2 separate regions of the Homo sapiens genome follow, and region 1 is linked to region 2. A link means that fine-mapping ties the variant in region 2 to the expression of a gene that starts in the linked region. Tissue or cell type: whole blood. Region 2 holds a variant in brackets; the other region holds the start of a gene. All regions are shown on one strand. Distances are between the middles of the regions.

Evidence for each region. PIP is the estimated chance that this variant, and not a neighbour inherited with it, causes the effect.
Region 1: it holds the start of FZD1, and the variant in region 2 is fine-mapped to the expression of FZD1 in whole blood (TOPMed, PIP 0.94).

Annotation. Positions count from the first base shown.
Region 1 is chr7:91,258,564-91,267,657 of GRCh38, forward strand. FZD1 (frizzled class receptor 1) reads left to right here and starts at 5,870. Exons shown (of 1, transcript NM_003505.2): 1 at 5,870-9,094. The coding sequence starts at 6,318. The coding sequence ends at 8,261. RefSeq lists an enhancer at 5,655-5,834 and silencers at 5,955-6,464, 6,555-6,614.
Region 2 is chr7:91,293,610-91,305,231 of GRCh38, forward strand. No RefSeq gene overlaps it. Among named protein-coding and RNA genes, the nearest start is that of LINC02932, 12 kb to the right of the region's middle. RefSeq lists an enhancer at 530-2,535. The variant CA/C (reference allele first, on the strand shown) is at 6,419.

The DNA of each region.
Region 1 (9,094 bases), 36 kb before region 2:
ACAAGTCTTACTTATTCTCCTAAAATGTCTGCACTGAAATGATTGCAAACTCAGCACCCCACATCTTAGCCAATCAGAGAGGCCTCTTTAAACACATGAGGCGTAAGGTTTTAATTTACAAGGACCCATCTCTATTTCTTTCCCAGGGCCTCGAAGAAGGACTACATTCTAAATCTAATATAAATGCCTGTATGTTCTACAAAAGTTTTCCCAGATAGTGTACACCATTTCCAATTGCACAATGACAATGACAACAGAACTAATTAAAACAGAGTCATGAGGTACTTTTTATATGCACTTTTTTTTTTGGCGAAACTGATGTTTAAGTAATGTATTTAGCAAAGTCTCCTATTATAGTTTAATCTTTTAATTACAAGAAAATTTGGGTTAATTATTATCCTACCTTGATGAAAATTCAGTGATGGTGATTTTTCCCCTTTCATACTTCTTATCTTTTTTTTTTAAATAAAAAATGTGTTTTGTGAGATTTGTGTACAAGTAATCCATGATTCATATTTAGAACTACTGAGCCACACCTTTATATTAAATCTTTGAGTCTTGCCATGTTTAAAATGTAAATTATAACAAATTATGGCTGACTCTCAAATAATAAGTTAGTTCAGGATCTTAATATCAATCAGGATCTTAATATCAATCAGCTGTAAGTACTCTATAAGATAAAAGTCAAGGTAATCACACTGAAAATCTCTTTTGATAAGTGGTTTTACAGAAAGATAGATAAATAAATATATATATATATATTTTTAAAGAGAGTCTACAAATTGAGCCTCTGTGTGTGAATGAATTCAATAACTATTTTACCAATGTCGAGAGCAGATTTGTATGAGAAAGAAAGAAAAAACAAAGAAAGAAAAGACATTCATTTTTAGAATTGTTGCAGAAGAATACAGATGTTATGGAAAATAAGAAATAGCTTATGTAGTAATTTCTGGGTTGGAAATTCAAGAAGAAATGAAATAGAGAACTATGCTGAAAGCTTTAGTAGAGTTATACCTAATGTGTCTCTACAAAGACAATATAATAGACCCCTAGGTGGTGCCACCCAGAAAGAAGGGAATAGTATGGTCTGAGTTTTCTCTACCACCATCAGCTCCCTAAGCAATCAACTTCCCTTCACTAGGAATTCAAGAAGAGTCAGGAACTCAAAGCATAGCAGGCCAAGTTCTCACTTTCTACAACTGACATTCAAAAGTAATATAGGGTGAGAGTCCAACCTTATAAAATAAAAATTCAAAATATAGTAGGTCTAATTCAGCATTTTTCAAGTTGAATCTCACAGAGCATTAATGTCAAGCAAAATATTGATGCAGTGTAATATATATGTGTGTCTATGTATGTGTGTATGTATATACATGTGTGTATTCCAAGTGTGTGTATGTATATGTATATTCCAAATGTGGGAAATACTAAATAAGAAAAAAGTTTAAAAGGGTTCTTAAGCTCAGCAATTCTCAGAGATTATATTAGGCTAATGTGAATCTCCAATAAGGACACAGAATATGGCCTTTTTCCAAACTTATTTGAACAAATTTATTTCACAGAATGCCTTTGGAGAAGATATTGTATTTCACAGAACACAGTTTGGAAAATGCTGGTCTAACTCATTAGTGAATCCCAGCATTTAAGCCCCTAGCATATATATCCTGGTATAGAAAACTATGTTAAATACCGAGCAATCATCTGGTGTGCTCCCAGAAACCACATTTTCTTCTACAATTTTTTCAGTGGACATGATCACATAATGTTACTAACTGGAAGTCCATGGACCTTGGTCAGACACAAGCCCCACTCTGGCACTTACTGGCTATGGGATCTTGTACAAATTACTTAATTGTTTTGAGCCTTCAATTCTTCATCAATCAAAAGGAGATAACATAGGGAGGCTGAGTGGGAGGACAGCCTGAGCCCAGGAGTTTGAGACCAGCCTGGGCAACACAGCAAAACCCTGTCTCCACAAAAAATTAAAAAATTAGATGGGCATGATGGTGCATACCTGTAGTCCCAGCTACTAGTGAAGCTAAAGTGGGAAGACTGCTCAAGCCCAGGAGTTTGAGGCTGCAGCGAACTATGATCCTATGATCATGCCAGCTTGGGAGACAGAATGGGACCCTGTCTCTAAAAAAAAAGAAAAAGAAAAAAAAAGGGATAAGATAATTAGTACCTTCCTCAAAGTTTAAGCAACACAACGTATGGATACATCGTGCAAAATAACACCAAGTATACACAGTAGGTGTTCAAAAATATAGTCTTAACCTGTGTTAATCTCTATTCTTCAACAAAGACAATTCAAGTCAGCCACTCACAAGCCAGCAAAAAAGCAACTCACCTAAAAGCTTAAGATCCTTCAGGTTGGGTTGCACATGGAGCGTTCACCTAACTGCCTGTGTGTCTGTGTACACTCAACTATATGTAATTGGAACTGGATCTCCATCCCTGCTAATTATCCACATTCAACCTGACATAAGCAGTCTGGAGAAACTTCAGAAGATTTGGGAAAGGCCTGATAAAACAAGATCTTTGATATGAGAAAACTTGACTGAGTCTGATGCTTGACAAAGCAGTATCAAGGAAGAATTGGGTTATGTTTATAGTTTTGACCTAACTGAAATATTTTTATTACCAAGTTCATAATAGTTCATACTTACTTAGTAATTTTGATCTGTGGATCTCAAACTTTTCCACATCTTGAGAAAATATTACATTTTATATTCTGTTAAAATACACTGCTCATATTTGTCTTCTAATATTTTGTTACCCATTGCCTTCATTACCTCCCCCAACAGACCTCCTTTCATGACCCTGGTTATTACTGACTAAAACTCGGAATTGTTTCTGATTTTAGTACCTTCCTCTGTATTACATAGTTTTGATAAATTAAATATTGTATTTGTATAATAAATGAAAATCAAGTTTGTTGGTTTTTTTTAACTTTGAAAGACAACTCTCAGAAAATGATTTTTTAAAAATGTTATAAGGTCTTTTATTTACACATTCTATTGAGGGAGAACTTCCACAGAAAACTAACTTTTAAAAAAAGATAAAAAGAACTATAGCTACTTAAAATAACATACAAGGATTAAAATAAGCTTCTAATGAAATTCAAGCCAAATAGGGCCATTTAAAGTGAGGCACATCCCTTAATATTTCTGGATCCAATATTCTTAATTGTAGATTGCAGAAAATTAACTCATTTCTCGATGACATTTTTGGTTGCTTCCAGTTTCATAATCTGGTAAGAATGACATTTTTTCTCTCTCTCTCTCTAACTCTAGCTGTACTTCTGAGCCTCCTCGTAGTAAACTTCACTGTCAGGTGAAACATAAAACAAGTTCAAGAATTTCAGTAGAACAACTTTTGAAGCAAGAGAGTGTCTTCTACTCTGAGAAACAGAACTGAGTGCTCTGCCATATCTCTGTGCCCCAACCCCTTAGGGGAGAAGGAGAAGGATTTGGAGTGATGGTAGGGATGGATGGATGTTTAACACGTGATGCTTCTTGGTAATTAACACATCAGAATAAATTCACTTTTCACTCAGCCTAGTCAGCTCGAATGACTTGAGAGAATAGAACACAGGACAGGTTAAATCTTTCCAAGACAGGAGTGATAGGAGAGAGATGGCTTGATAAAGTTCCTAAACATGGGATACTATCAGCAGAGGAATGAGCATCAGAGTGGAAAGGCTAGAGAAAAAGTGTCCCTGGGAGCCTGGGGGCCAGGATGCTAGAGTGAAAATGAACACTTATTGAACGGTTCAAAGGACTTCAGAGAGCTGTGCTTCCCAACCTCCTTTTCAATATCAAAATGTGTCATAAATTACAGTCAACACACGTACACATGCTCACATAATTGTGCATTTAGTACCTGTTGCTTTAAAAAAATGCTAGCAATCAAATACTTTAAAGCAAAAATGCATTTTATGAAGGTACTGCTTATATAAACATTTGAAAAACAATAACATATGTATCTGAGACAAACAGATGTCATTTTGCTTTAGCAGGTAAAGATATGACTGCACCTTCTTTATAGACACCAACATGCTGGGTAGTGAAATTCTCAGAGACTTGTTAGCATGTAGTACAAGTAACACCCATCTAAGTAGTAACCTTTATGTGTAGATGAATGTTAAAGCTTCCTAATGACAGCCTGCCTCAGGTGCCCTCTTTCAGTCACCCTGGAATCACTCCCTGCTTATGTGGGGAAAGTGACCTTCAATAGTTTTCTATTTTCTGTATAATTTGGCCCAAACGTTTTAGTCTGGATTAAAACCTTTTCTCCTGCCTCCCCTCAAAGTGCCTCAGCTACACTCACCTCTCTGGCCCCCTTCAGCAATTCAAGTGAATTTGAGCTTTAATCTTTTGCACCTTGCACCTACCTCTCCGTCAGAACCCCATTTCATCTGAGCTGGTTGCTTTCTATGTGCCTTTTTGGCTTTGGGATGGACACTGTAACAAGTGATTTGCATTTCTGTGCCTCACTGTACTATGCCCCTCTCTAAGGCTGGCACAGGTCTCCTTCATTTTATACTCTACGACCTAAGAGTGCTTATAGCACAATGGGTGGTTGGTATCTATTAAACAAATGAATGTGTAAATGAATGATAGAAAGTAATTGGTGAAAAGTACGCTGAGATAGAGTCTGATCACAGGCAAAAAAAAAAAAAAAATGGAAGAATTAATAGTCCAATGGCACTTTTCTTATAAAACTGAATTACATAGTCAAACCATCATTTAAAATAATCTTACAAGGAAAACAACATTAATGTGCGTCTGTTGAGACGGATTATGCTGTTTTGGAATTAGGAAGAGAATGTGCAGTTCGCTGTTTGCTTTCAGACTGTTTGTTTGTTTTGTTTATTAAACTGGCGTCTCCAGCTCTGCAGCCCAGCCTGTGGAACCTAAATGGCCCAGGTCCCAGGAGTTCCCATCGGAGCCGTGGGCGTCCCCAGGGTTTAGAAAGGCTCCCCAGGGGCCCAAGCTGCCGGCGAGTGCAGCTCCCGCCGGCGCCACCTCTGCGGTCTGGAGCGGCGAGGACGATCCCAGAGAGGCGCCCCCACTGCCTCGGTCGTCGGGTTCTTAAGTTTTTCTCTCCAAAAATTTAATGGATAGTTTTCTTTTGCTTCTGTTTCTGACTTGATTAAAGAGGCGGAAAAAAAGGAGTTTGACTCCAAGAAGAATGATAGTAGCAGAAGGCGCATCTGGCTTTACTTTCCAAATTCCATCAAAGTTTGTGTTTTGTTTCATTTGACAGCGATCCCGTGAACGTCTCCTCTGGGGAAATGGCGCGACCAAAGCCCGCCAAGCCCAGCCTGCGAACTGGAGGATTTATTAATGTAATATGTTAAACAAAACCTCGACAGACACAAACTCAAAGGAAACCGTGCGCTCCTTAAGTCAAAGGCATCTGTTCTGGAAGCAGAACCCGGTTTGCTGTTGGTAACCAGCGTTAAGAGCAGGATTTTTAAACATGATAATGGATAAAATAAAAGAAAAGCGAAGTCCCGCGGTCCTCTGACTCCTATTCATTATCTCCAGCAGCATATGGGACCATTCTCCTACGTATCCTCGCCTTTTTCTTCTGAAAAAGCAAAAGCAACCAAGCCTGTCCCGCTTCAGAGCAATCCTACTCTTTGTGCCTGAGTAGTGCCACCACCACTACTTCCTCCTCCTCCCGCCTCCTCCTACCCCGCCCTCCTGCCGCTGGCTTTCGCTCTGGCGAGGAGGCGGCCGGCTCCCTTTGCGCCGGGAAGCCGGAGCCGCGATTGGGCGACGGTCCCTGAGCCTCCAGTTCTGCGTCGGTTTCAAGGCTCCTCCCTCCTGGTGAAAGACAGACTACGGGGCGCCTGGAAACCGGTCCGAGGGCGCGCGAGGCAGAGGAGAGGGAGCGAGTTGAGGGATTGACACAAATGGTCAGGCGGCGGCGGCGGAGAAGGAGGCGGAGGCGCAGGGGGGAGCCGAGCCCGCTGGGCTGCGGAGAGTTGCGCTCTCTACGGGGCCGCGGCCACTAGCGCGGCGCCGCCAGCCGGGAGCCAGCGAGCCGAGGGCCAGGAAGGCGGGACACGACCCCGGCGCGCCCTAGCCACCCGGGTTCTCCCCGCCGCCCGCGCTTCATGAATCGCAAGTTTCCGCGGCGGCGGCGGCTGCGGTACGCAGAACAGGAGCCGGGGGAGCGGGCCGAAAGCGGCTTGGGCTCGACGGAGGGCACCCGCGCAGAGGTCTCCCTGGCCGCAGGGGGAGCCGCCGCCGGCCGTGCCCCTGGCAGCCCCAGCGGAGCGGCGCCAAGAGAGGAGCCGAGAAAGTATGGCTGAGGAGGAGGCGCCTAAGAAGTCCCGGGCCGCCGGCGGTGGCGCGAGCTGGGAACTTTGTGCCGGGGCGCTCTCGGCCCGGCTGGCGGAGGAGGGCAGCGGGGACGCCGGTGGCCGCCGCCGCCCGCCAGTTGACCCCCGGCGATTGGCGCGCCAGCTGCTGCTGCTGCTTTGGCTGCTGGAGGCTCCGCTGCTGCTGGGGGTCCGGGCCCAGGCGGCGGGCCAGGGGCCAGGCCAGGGGCCCGGGCCGGGGCAGCAACCGCCGCCGCCGCCTCAGCAGCAACAGAGCGGGCAGCAGTACAACGGCGAGCGGGGCATCTCCGTCCCGGACCACGGCTATTGCCAGCCCATCTCCATCCCGCTGTGCACGGACATCGCGTACAACCAGACCATCATGCCCAACCTGCTGGGCCACACGAACCAGGAGGACGCGGGCCTGGAGGTGCACCAGTTCTACCCTCTAGTGAAAGTGCAGTGTTCCGCTGAGCTCAAGTTCTTCCTGTGCTCCATGTACGCGCCCGTGTGCACCGTGCTAGAGCAGGCGCTGCCGCCCTGCCGCTCCCTGTGCGAGCGCGCGCGCCAGGGCTGCGAGGCGCTCATGAACAAGTTCGGCTTCCAGTGGCCAGACACGCTCAAGTGTGAGAAGTTCCCGGTGCACGGCGCCGGCGAGCTGTGCGTGGGCCAGAACACGTCCGACAAGGGCACCCCGACGCCCTCGCTGCTTCCAGAGTTCTGGACCAGCAACCCTCAGCACGGCGGCGGAGGGCACCGTGGCGGCTTCCCGGGGGGCGCCGGCGCGTCGGAGCGAGGCAAGTTCTCCTGCCCGCGCGCCCTCAAGGTGCCCTCCTACCTCAACTACCACTTCCTGGGGGAGAAGGACTGCGGCGCACCTTGTGAGCCGACCAAGGTGTATGGGCTCATGTACTTCGGGCCCGAGGAGCTGCGCTTCTCGCGCACCTGGATTGGCATTTGGTCAGTGCTGTGCTGCGCCTCCACGCTCTTCACGGTGCTTACGTACCTGGTGGACATGCGGCGCTTCAGCTACCCGGAGCGGCCCATCATCTTCTTGTCCGGCTGTTACACGGCCGTGGCCGTGGCCTACATCGCCGGCTTCCTCCTGGAAGACCGAGTGGTGTGTAATGACAAGTTCGCCGAGGACGGGGCACGCACTGTGGCGCAGGGCACCAAGAAGGAGGGCTGCACCATCCTCTTCATGATGCTCTACTTCTTCAGCATGGCCAGCTCCATCTGGTGGGTGATCCTGTCGCTCACCTGGTTCCTGGCGGCTGGCATGAAGTGGGGCCACGAGGCCATCGAAGCCAACTCACAGTATTTTCACCTGGCCGCCTGGGCTGTGCCGGCCATCAAGACCATCACCATCCTGGCGCTGGGCCAGGTGGACGGCGATGTGCTGAGCGGAGTGTGCTTCGTGGGGCTTAACAACGTGGACGCGCTGCGTGGCTTCGTGCTGGCGCCCCTCTTCGTGTACCTGTTTATCGGCACGTCCTTTCTGCTGGCCGGCTTTGTGTCGCTCTTCCGCATCCGCACCATCATGAAGCACGATGGCACCAAGACCGAGAAGCTGGAGAAGCTCATGGTGCGCATTGGCGTCTTCAGCGTGCTGTACACTGTGCCAGCCACCATCGTCATCGCCTGCTACTTCTACGAGCAGGCCTTCCGGGACCAGTGGGAACGCAGCTGGGTGGCCCAGAGCTGCAAGAGCTACGCTATCCCCTGCCCTCACCTCCAGGCGGGCGGAGGCGCCCCGCCGCACCCGCCCATGAGCCCGGACTTCACGGTCTTCATGATTAAGTACCTTATGACGCTGATCGTGGGCATCACGTCGGGCTTCTGGATCTGGTCCGGCAAGACCCTCAACTCCTGGAGGAAGTTCTACACGAGGCTCACCAACAGCAAACAAGGGGAGACTACAGTCTGAGACCCGGGGCTCAGCCCATGCCCAGGCCTCGGCCGGGGCGCAGCGATCCCCCAAAGCCAGCGCCGTGGAGTTCGTGCCAATCCTGACATCTCGAGGTTTCCTCACTAGACAACTCTCTTTCGCAGGCTCCTTTGAACAACTCAGCTCCTGCAAAAGCTTCCGTCCCTGAGGCAAAAGGACACGAGGGCCCGACTGCCAGAGGGAGGATGGACAGACCTCTTGCCCTCACACTCTGGTACCAGGACTGTTCGCTTTTATGATTGTAAATAGCCTGTGTAAGATTTTTGTAAGTATATTTGTATTTAAATGACGACCGATCACGCGTTTTTCTTTTTCAAAAGTTTTTAATTATTTAGGGCGGTTTAACCATTTGAGGCTTTTCCTTCTTGCCCTTTTCGGAGTATTGCAAAGGAGCTAAAACTGGTGTGCAACCGCACAGCGCTCCTGGTCGTCCTCGCGCGCCTCTCCCTACCACGGGTGCTCGGGACGGCTGGGCGCCAGCTCCGGGGCGAGTTCAGCACTGCGGGGTGCGACTAGGGCTGCGCTGCCAGGGTCACTTCCCGCCTCCTCCTTTTGCCCCCTCCCCCTCCTTCTGTCCCCTCCCTTTCTTTCCTGGCTTGAGGTAGGGGCTCTTAAGGTACAGAACTCCACAAACCTTCCAAATCTGGAGGAGGGCCCCCATACATTACAATTCCTCCCTTGCTCGGCGGTGGATTGCGAAGGCCCGTCCCTTCGACTTCCTGAAGCTGGATTTTTAACTGTCCAGAACTTTCCTCCAACTTCATGGGGGCCCACGGGTGTGGGCGCTGGCAGTCTCAGCCTCCCTCCACGGT
Region 2 (11,622 bases):
TTTTTTTTTTTTTTTTTGGTGGGAGAGAGATTGAGAATTTTCGTTTGCTAGTTTGCTAGAAGGCAAAAGAGAGCTGGAAAAGAGGGGGTGGTCTTACATGTCATCTAATCCAGCTCTTCACTTCCAGAAAGACCTGAGGAACTAACCAGTACCTCCTGTTTCTAAAGGTCTATGGGAATAAAAACTCTTTGTTCATCCAAGCCAGCACTTGTCAGCCCTCATCGGCAAGGAGTTCCTAGGTCTCACTTCCTATCCCTACCTGGTGCTCACCTCCTCATCTCCTCTGTTTCCCATGAACAAGAAGAACAGCTGGTCAGTTGCCTCTAGGGTGACTGGCTTAATATCTCTCATTTGCTGGGAATAATAGTGAGCAAGAGTTTTCCCTGAGTGAAGCGTGTTGCCTGCTAACTAATACCAGAAGAGCCTCCCTCTGATTCATGTTCTGCAAAAGTGGGTGAGGTAAGGGGAGTGGAGAGAGTCTTGAATGTAAGTGCAGCACACCCAGTTCCTTGAGGAAATGGGAAAGGTGTTTCCATCACACACCTGGGCAATGAATTTTGCTTCCTACAGCACAGCTGCCTTCTGCAAACCATTCCAAATCAAACCAATTTATTCCAAATTCCACTGCAATATCTGTTAATATCTAGTGAGATGTTCAAAGTAAGTTAACCATCTACTAGTTATGGGGGTTCTCTTTTTTTATTTCATCGAGAAACACAGACAAAACTGCTAAGATATGTTTCTGTTGCTAGACCTTAGTCTTATCACAGTTTGAAACTGTAGAAAATCAATTACGTGCTTTGAATTACTCCTCTTCTTGGCGCAAAAGCATTTCTTCATTCTTTCGGGATAGTGAACACTTTGCAACATCTACCACTAACAGCCTGTTAGGATTCTCTGCTAAATTAATGTAGTACAGATAAAGCAAACAGAAGGCTGGTAGAATGCTAAACATCTCCTCTTTCCTCTGTGGCTGGCTCCTTGCAGCTTGGGACCATTCTGCCTTGCTGCTACAACATCTGGACAGCATTCAAGGTTGTTTCTCAAGGACACAAGCTTGCACCTCCGGTGAATTTCAACTTTCAACATCTCTCTGGCTCTAATCTATATTTAATGTTTCATGACTGGTAGTCAAAGAAGCTTCAGCTAAATATCAGGTTGGAATGAAAATGATCCTTGGGAGAACATTCGCTTCCAGCGTGCGCCAGCAAAGTGTCTGTGACAGAGGCTTTCCCCAGAGATTTGTTGCCCATTCTTTTGCAGTAATAATAATTATGCCTTATGATTGCTGTGCCTACATAATCAAAGATCGCTTCATCAAATGTGATCCCCAGGGGAAACTGCCTCTACTCCTAACCGGATGTCAGTCACAGAGAGCAGCACCCTTAGGGATCCCCAATCTTTTGCTTGCCCTTTTCAGTACTGTGTTGTTAGCATTGTGTTTCTTCATATTCTTCTCAATGCAAATGATGTGTAAATCATGCCCTCCAGAAGGCACATGTGGTGAGGGGGAGAGGGTGGGGAGGGAGGTGGGGGCTGGTGTATTCTCTTCCAGCCCCCTCCTTAACCTACTACAGGGATTTCTCACATGGAGCATAATTACATCTGTGCCATATGGGCTCATTTATATTCTATAACAGGTTAAGCTAATACGACTCAGAAATATGCTAAAAATACCTCAAAGTATTCTAGAGCTGTCAAAATACTTGTCATTTCTTGCTCACCCATTTGATTGCTAGTGTTTTTATTTTTGTTGGGAGATTTGAAGAGCTAAGAAAGCATGCTGGTGTGCTGGTGTCCAGTCTATAAATACAGTTTAATTTCCTGTACTGTTATAATACTTGGGTTTGCAAAAAAAAAAAATCTTTCTTTATAATCCTGGAATGGCCCCAAGACATGGGCACTGAAGCCCCTATACTTGTAGATTTTAATTTCCCAAGAGGTAGAAAATACAGATTTCAGATGTGCGGTTTTGTCAGCTTTAGAATATTTCTTGTCTTTGTTTGATGTAATTATTCATTGTGATAGAGAAACACCTGCAGCGGGCTGACATACCATAGAAACATGCTGCTTGAGTTAGTTATAAGAGTTTGTTTGGATGTCAGACAAATCTTGTCAAGATTTTACATGTGGCATGATAATGAGAAGTACAATCTGTAATGAGTAATGAGTTCGACAATGATTTACAAGGGCATGTTGGGTTATTTTTATGCAGTGGTTAAAGTCCATCAACATACTAATTTCTACCATCAGTTTGGAAAATTGGTAGGTCATGCTTGTGTAGGCTTTTAACCTAATGGCCTGTTTATGTAATTAATTTTTTCATTATTATTACCTTAACATATTATGGAATTTTAAAAATTAGTCTTGGGAACAGAATAGCAAGCACAAATATTTTACTTTTCCATGCTTGACAAGCAACATTTCCAAGGTTTATAAGGTGCTAATCACATCAGCCATCAGTGAAACACACCATTTAACTGAAAACTAAACTCATACAAAGCCATACTTTTCTTATTTGCTAATAACTGTTCTATGCGAGCTGGTTGATAGAGTGGTTAAGACTACCTGGGCTCCAATCTCAATTCTGCCACTTGCTAGCTTATTATCTCGGCAAATGCCTTAATTTTTCTAGTGCTCAGTTCCCCCAACTGTAAAATGAGCCTAATAACCATAGCTATCCCCAAGGGATTGTGGAAAGTATAAAACAAGATAATATAGTAAATCTTTAGGCACAATGTCTAACACTTAGTAATCACTTCGTAAGTATTAGTTATTATCACTGGTATTGATTTTGGTTTTAACATAAACAGCTTTTAATATAATTATATGACTCTTTTAATTAAAAAATACATTTTACCAAAATCATGTTAGTTGCACAAACTTCCATTTATCTTAGATCATGCAGGCCAGAGATTCTTGACATTTTTGAATCACATAACCAAGTTCTTACTTCATTTAGAATCAGTAGGTATTTCATGGCTGGCTTAGGAAGAAAGGGAAAAATTCAGTGTTAATGTACCAAAGACAGGTTTTTCTATTTAAAGTATTATTTTGAAATATTTGTACCTTAAGATTATTCAGGACACAATGTATTTGAACTCCTGCAATTGAAATGTTACATTTAAATAAGAAGGAATTCTAGTTTATAGTAAGCAAATGATTGAGCCAGTAACTATAGCCAAGTTTTGAAAATTTGCTTCTTTAAATCCTTAGTAAAGAGCGATTTGAATACTGTGAAGGTAGATGTGTGTTTAACACTCTACTGTAGATACATGTACACAAGAGAATCTAATTTTGAAGTCTTCATTTAAGTGTTTCTATTCAGCCTCTTGACCTTGGAGAGAGTCATGTGCCTTCCTAGTTACAAGATTGGGCTCTAGATCAGGGGTCCCCAAACACCAGGGCCACACAACAGCAGGGGAGTTGGGCTGGGGGGCAAGGGAGAGAAGGTTCATCTGTTTTTTACAGCCACTCCCCATTGCTCACATTACTGTTTGAGCTCCACCTCCTATCAGATCAGCAGTGGCATTAGATTAGATTCTCACAGGAGGGCAAACCCTGTTGTAAATTGTGCATATGAGGGATCTAGGCTGCATACCCCTTATGAGAATCTAATGCCTGATGATCTGTCACTGTCTCCCATCACTCCCATATGGAACTGTCTAGTTGCAGGAAAACAAGCTCAGGGCTCCCACTAATTCTACTTTATGGAGAGTTGTATAATTATTTCATTATATATTACAATGTAATAATAGTAGGCACAAAGTGCACAATAAATGGAATGTGCTTGAATTATCCCAAAACCATCTTCTCACTCCACCCCCGCCACCCCTCCTCTGCTCTCCAGTCCATGGAAAAATTGTCTTCCATAATACCAGTCCCTGGTGCCAAAAATGTTGAGGACCACTGCTCTAGATGACCTCTCAGGCCTTTCCCTCATCTTCAGGCTAGTTATACTACCATAAAAGTGGAATAAAGTTCCTATGGTAAGAAGGGCTATAAGTTGCCTAGTCACTGCACACTTTGTATGTTTGAATTGAAGGTCTAATGTAAATCTGATGTAAATATAGGGATCTTCTTTTTCACTCATCTTGGCTTTGTGGTTAGGGATGGGGCGATGGCAAAGCGAGATACAGGCAGCCTTTTACAAATGAGCATCCCCACCCCGTGTTCTGGCCAGGCTGTAGGCAGTAGGTTTTCAGACAAGAGTGGCAAGGATTTGAAATTAGTAGCCAGGGAAATAGCAGTGTGATTTCAGATTCTCATGACTTAGGAAATTCCATGCTTAAAAGCGATATTTTTTCAGCTTTTAGACAATGTTTTCTTTCCTCTCAAAATTACTCCAGACTTTTCTGCAGAGATTACAACATGAACTTTCAATGGTTAAAATTCAGCCACATTTTCTTTTTAGTTTTCTTGTGTCAGTTGTATTGTAAATTGGTTTAAATTAAAAATAAAAAAATTTCCAAAATGATAAATGGGATTTTTCCTCAGACCGAGTCAGCATGAGATTAATGCTTTCACAATTTTGTACAATTTCAAATCAAATGTCATGTGATTCAATCCTAAATCTTTTCTTATATTATCTTCCCTAACCTATTTCTTTATTGTCAACATGAGACTACAGAGGATGTTAGAGAGAAGGACAGGTAGAAATCTACTTGATTGAGAGTCAAGGAGGGGGGGGGTCTTTTTCTCTGTGGAGTTTCTTTTAATAGGTCAGGGATAAAAACCTTTAGGAAAAGCTGAAACTAAAAGTGAAACATAAGACGACCACTAGGTTCACAAACACAAACATGTATTTTGTTCCCGGGGTGGAGAGAAGGGTGCGTTTGTGTGTATTTACTTTTACTTTGAACCAGACTTAATTACAAATTTAAAATTAACTGACATTCTCTTTAAATATGCTTACTTCAGTGTACCTTACCAAAGGACAAAGACCCCACAGTTGAAGCCTATCCGCTCAACTTATCCCTGAATGGGAGAAGCATCTACTAAAGCAATCTAAGTTATAACCATTCTAGTTTTCCATGCCAGATTTGGATGCTTAAGCTTTAGAAACATAGCTACTGTTTTCCCATATTTTCTGTAAAGGACATGTGTCCTCTCTAGAAGGAAAGCTTACTTCAAATTTGAACATCTCCATTTGGAGAACTTTTGGACAGAAACACAACTTTCTAGAGTTTCAATTGACTGAAAAGAAAACTCTTATATGGAAAAAATACCGTCTGAAGATGAAAGAAAATTCAGAAATTGGCTGTAAAACTGTGTCACATCTCACATTACCTAAGTGAACTAACACACAGAAGACAGTGGGAAATCTGGGAGCTGTGACTAAATTATTTATTTTTAAAAATGCTCTTATGAAATTTAATGCACCAGAGATAATATGTTTACTCTCTTTTGTTGTTTTTTGTTAATGATTTTTTCCCTATTTTTTTGTAGGAAATTTAGAAAATAATAAAGATACATAGAAAACAATAAATTTCACCCAGAGATAAATACCACTGACATTTTATTTCCTCAAGTCTTTTCTCTATGCACAAAGATATATTTAAGAAAATGGAATTGTACTACATATAAAATTAAATATCTTGGATTCCCTACTCCCTTAGCATTTTTTAATCATTTCTTCATGTCTTTAACTATTTTTTCCAAAATTCTGTTTTTAATGACTGTATAATATTTCATTGCACAGTTGTAGCATAACTTTGTTTTCCTTAATTTACCTTTTGGGGTTTTAACTTCTTGGTGATCTCCATATGCATGAATCATCTTTCTAGTGTCTTGTGATCTTAGATCCCCGACCTCTTTTTCCCTCATTGTGTGGCCTCCCCTCTGCAGTCCCCACTCCCATGGGCAGGCCTTGCTAGACCATGCTATTTCGTTCTCTCAATGTCATGTATTACATGTGATCAACATTGCCCGACTTTCTCTCTAATACTCTAACCTGACTGGGACCTCCAATTCTTCTACCACCCTTTCACTGTCCATCACCACTTCACGTCCTTACTCCCCTCCATACCCAGCTGAATTCCATCCTCAATAATCACTCTCAATTGCACACACCTTCAAGGAAAAAAATTTCCTTGCTGCTTTTCTACTTTTTTTAATGCTTGTTTGAAAAAAACCACAGGTTTTTAAAATTAAACTCTCTGCATTCTCTGTATCTGCACCTGGGTAACTTACTGGAGCTGGAGAAGAAAAGAACACAACCATGCTGATTGATCTCACTTTAAATTCATAAGCACAAACTCAAGTGAACCCGTCCTGATTCCACTAATCACCCTACGCCTCTTTAGTCCATTTGTTCACCCGTTCACTGACTATTTGATATTCTCTTTTTTCTCCTCGAATCTCTGACATTTCCTCCTCCCATCTGTATTGTCTTAGCTGATGATATTGCATTCTACTT[CA/C]CTGAGAAAACTGAAGCAATTAGAAGAGAACTTCCCCTGACCCTTATAATCACATGTCCACACTCATTCCATCTGCCTCTCATCTGCTACATTCCCACCTGCTATCATAGATAAGGTCTCCATTTTGCTAACTAAAGCCAGTCCCTCCAGCCATGACTAGTTCCCATCCGGGACACTGCCTTAGCAATTATCTTTTCTGACTCCTATATTATCACAATGTTTCTTCTCTACTGGATCATTCCCAGTAGCTTACAGACATGCTGTTATTCTCCCATCTTTCCCTACAAGTTATCACCTCATTTCTTTGGATTGCTTGCCTCAAAACTTGTTGAAAGGGATGTCTTTAGTAGCCATTTCTGATTCCTCTCCTTTATTATCTTCTGAATCCTCCCCAGTCTGGCTTTTGCTTCCCTCGACTCCTTCACTGAAACTGCTCTTGTCAAGATCACTAGTGACTTCCATGTTGCTAACTGCAGTGGCCAATTCTCACTTCTCATTTTACTTGACCCGTCTTCGTTTGGCTCTGGGACAACACACTGTCTTGAATTTCCTCCTATCTTCCTAGCTGCTTCTTCTTTGTCTCATTTGCTGACTTCTCCTTTTCTACCTTCCCTCTGAATGTTGATCTCCAGTGCTCAGTTCTTGATTCTCTTTTCTTCTCTATCTTTACTTCCTTTTTTAGGCGATTTCATCTAATCTCATGGCTTTAAATACCACTTAAATGCCTAAGACTCCTAAATTTACCTCTTCATCCCACACCTCTCTCCTGACTCCAGGCTCACATACAGTTATCTACTAACGTCTTTATTTGGTTGTCTCAATTGAATATGTCAAAAACAGAACTCCCAATATGGCCCCCTCACTTGTTCTTCTGGCGGCCACTCCCATCTCAATTGATGGAAACACCATCTTCCCAGGGCTCAGGTCACAACCTTGAGATCATTCTTGACTCATAGTTTTCTCATGTTCCATATCCAATTCATCAGAAAATCTCTTGCTCTACCTTCATCCTATATCCATAACATGACTATTTCTCAGTGCTACCTCTGCTGCCGCCTTGGTCTGCACCACCGTCATCAGCTTCCTAACCTTTCTGTTTCTATCTTTGTTCTACCCACCATCTAGTCTCAGCACAGAAGCCAGAGTGACCCTTTTAAACCTAAATATGGACCCAGTGGGGGGGCTTGCTGGCTTGCGCCTGTAATCTCAACACTTTTGGAGGCTGAGGCAGGAGGATTGCTTGAAGCCAGGAGTTTGAGATCAGCCAGGGTAACATAGGGAGACCCTCTCTCTACAAACAAAATTAAAAATTAGCCAGACATGGTAGTGTGCACCTGTAGTCCCAGCAACTTAGGTGGCTGAGGTAGGAGGATCACTTGTGCCCAGGAATTCTAGACTGCAGTGAGCTAGAATTATACCACTATACTCCAGCTTGGACAACAGAGTGAGACCCTGTCTCAAACAAACAAACAAAAAACCAAAAATACCCTACTTCTCTGCTCAGAATTTTGTAACAGCTCCCAGTTTATTCAGAGTAAAAGCCAAAGTCCTTACAATGGTCTGCTAGGCCCTAAGTGTTCGGATCCCAGTTACCTGTCTGATCCTTTTTCTCTTTGCCCAATTTGCCCTGCTCTAGCCACATTGGCCTCCTTGTTGTTCCTCAAACATGCCAGACAAACTCCCCTCTCAGGCCCTTTGCATTGGCTGTTACTTTAGCCTGAAAAGCTCTTCAGTCTTTATGCTAATACCACTTCTCAATAAGCCTGCTCTGCCTCTTTATGCTATATTGTGCCCCAACACCTCCTGCTCTCCTATTATAGTACCTTCCTTCTTCTTTTCCTCCCCATATTATATGGAAACGCTTCTTGTATTGTATAAAAAGCTTCTAACAAGCTACATAATTTATTTATTTATTATGCTTGTGTCTATTATCAGCATTCCTATCTCAAACTTAAGCTTTCACAGTGTCAGGGTCTTCGTTTTTTGTTCACTGAGATATTCTAAACACTGAGAACAATGTCTGACACATAGTAAGTATTCAATAAATATTTGTTCAAAAACCTTCAATAAATAATAAGCCTATTTATATAGAAAAGGCAAACATTTAAAGGCACGTTAACCTTCTTACTTCAGTCTATATTTGTTTTGAAAAACCTGCCTTCTGAAGTGAACTATAATTCCTAACTTTGGTTTGAATCCCCTCACATGAAGCTTCATGTTTCTATTCTTTAGAGAACATAACTTTCAAAAATGTTTTGAGGATGAATAAAATGAGATAGAATAACCAAGCAAGCCAAATAGCTAAGTGAAAAATTAGAACAACCATCTGGATATTTCAGTTACAAGAATTTCAGTGGTGAACTCCTGTTGAGCAGTGGAATATATAACTCCCAGCAGAAATACTTTAATTTGTGGATTGGAGGATAAAGAGTGGTGGGTTGGAATGGGTATACTGGGGTGGGGTTGGGGATTAGGAGTGAAAAGGAAGTGGAAAGTAAAATGGTAGGAAGATGGCTGTGCTAGCAAAGGCATCAAATACCTAACTCGCATAAATGACCATGCCTATATGTTACAGGTTGGAAATGCCTACGTTTTTTAAACAGATAAATTGCACACATTTACTGTACAGCATAAAAAGGATGACATTTATCTTTTCCTTGGGTCTGAAATGTATTTCTATCACTTGGCTGGTTTGTTTTTAACTCACACTGAAAACCGAACTGTAAGAAGTTTGCCTAAACTTCTCCCCCACCCCATGTTATACAGCCTCAGCTCATGCTATTACTCCAAATACAATAATCTGTTGGGAAAAATCAGGGTGATTTTAAAGAGATCATTTTCAAGTATGAAAGCATTTGAAACCAGTTGGGAAGACAGGAGGGGCAATAGCTAAACAAATACCTGCATTAGTCAAGGAGCACTCAGAAACAGGGCTCGACCTGCTGGGAGAGGATTTTGCTAAGGAAAGCCTGTACTCACAGAAGAAGGAAGCAAAACGGCCTCATAGGAAACCAGTCATGTGTGTGTACACTGTCTGCAGCCATTTTCAGTCACTTTGGTTTGAATCACCTCACATGAAGCTTCATGTTTCTATTCTTCAGAGAAAATAACTTGATTTAGAGAAAAAAACCTGATCAGTTTTAATCAGAGTTTCCTATTTGTATGTTTTTCCAGTTTACTTCTAGTGTTGAGAAAAATTATTATTTAATGGTGAGCATAGGGTAGGATGGGGCAGGAGTAGGGGATGGGGGAACTCTCACAAAGTAATCACTCTCCTTCCTTAATATTGCCATGTTTTACTTATTTAGGAGAAATAAAAAGAAAGTAAAAGAAGTCATTATAAGGCCCCAACAAGGATATTCAAGTCTCAGAAGGGCAGCAGGTAGCCAGGGGAGCAGAGTGCTGGTTTTTTAGGAGAACAGAGAAAACTGGCCAGTAGCAGAAGAGAGACAGGAATGCTAGGATGGGTGGATGTTGGAGACGCTGACATTTACAACAGAATAGTGATACAATGCTTTATTGAGAAGGGAGCACTTGAGCCAAGACCTAAAGGGAGTGGGGCCATAAGTGATGGGTAGCAAAGACCCTGGAATGGGGACTTACATGGTGGGTTTGAATAATTTCAAGGATGCTATGTGGCTGGAGTTGAGTGACCCTGCTTTATTTCTCCCTGTAACATTCAGCACCGTCTGACGTGTGATACATTTTCTTATTCATTTGTTCTTTTTCTATATCCCCAGCACTTAGAATGGTGCCTAGAACATAGTAGCTGCTGTAAGGGTGCAGTGCTTTGCAACCAAGATCTTCTTCAAAATGAAGACTCCTGTGAGTGCTGCCAAAAGACAGTTCTCACCTATCAGCCCTCATTGGAGATTGCCTATGGCCAAAATTACACAAGACCTGATCAAGCAAAGGTATTGTGAAGATTGACTGAGCAGAGATATAAAAGCCTGGACACCATGCCCCAACTTGGGACAACTCTGAAGGGCCACAAGTTCCAACACTTCCCATGGAGTTGCCTGAACCCTTTGCTGAGACCACATCAAAGCTCAACTTTTCCCTTTGCCCAGTTTTGCTTCCTTTCACTCCTTTTCACAGGTATTGATTTCAAGAGCCCTCCCTGTTTAATGTGCTCTGTCTCATAGCCTGCTGCTCAGAGAACTCTCAAATCTCTTCTTTCTCTGGTCCACTGAGAATAACTGCAAACCCCAAATCCTTCCCTCAGTTTCAAACACATTTCAATCAATATCTTTATGGGGTCTGAGAGGTTGAATTATTTTATCTGACTCTTTATTATTTCCTGTGTCTACATTCTATGCCTGGTAGTTTTGCATTTTCTGCAACTAAAGATGGAATGTCCTTCTCAGCCTCTTAATTTTGGGCTGGACTATGTGTTTTGCTTTGGCTAATAGAATGTTAGCAGATGTGATGCAAAAAGCAGTTTGAAAAGTGCTTGCGTGGTTGGGCTTGCCATTTGGTGTGCCTCTGCCATCACCATGAGAGGAATGTACCCTGAATAACTCAATGGGACCAAAAAGGATGAAAGACATGTGAGGAAGACCCAGACCTGCAGACCTGCAATGTGAAGCAAAACCTGCCCAGCTGACTCAAACATCTGGAGAAACAAAATAATTTTTTTCAGTCACTGAATTTTGAAGTTGTTTGTAATACACCATTGTGGCAAAGGCTAATTGCTGCAAGATGTAATTCTTACCACAGTAAAGTCAAATGTTTACATCTTTATGCAAAGTAGTTTAGCTACTTGTCCCAATTGTCTCCATTCCAGAGTAGCATTTTAGCTTTAACTTTGCATAATGAAAATGCATGTTAGAATTATTTCTCATAATGAAAAGAGAAGTCTTCTTATAAAGGTGAATTTTTTCTCTATCTATGGAGGTAGAAAACCTATAACTACTTTTAAAGGGCAACTTTCTTATTTCTGAAAAAATATGTGAAAGCTTAGCTGTGCATTGTGCTTCAGACGAAAATCCAGATTTACCAAGAAGACAAATTAGTGAGTGATTGGTTTTCTTTCTGATCTTTCTGATGCAGTATTTATCCATAAATATGCCCTTCATTTATAAAAATATTTTTTGGAATAATGATTCTCTTAGTATGTCTGTCTCCTGCCACTGGATTCTATGTCTCCTAAGAATGGACAGGAACAGCATCCTGTTCATCTTATGTCTCCAGTAGCAATTCC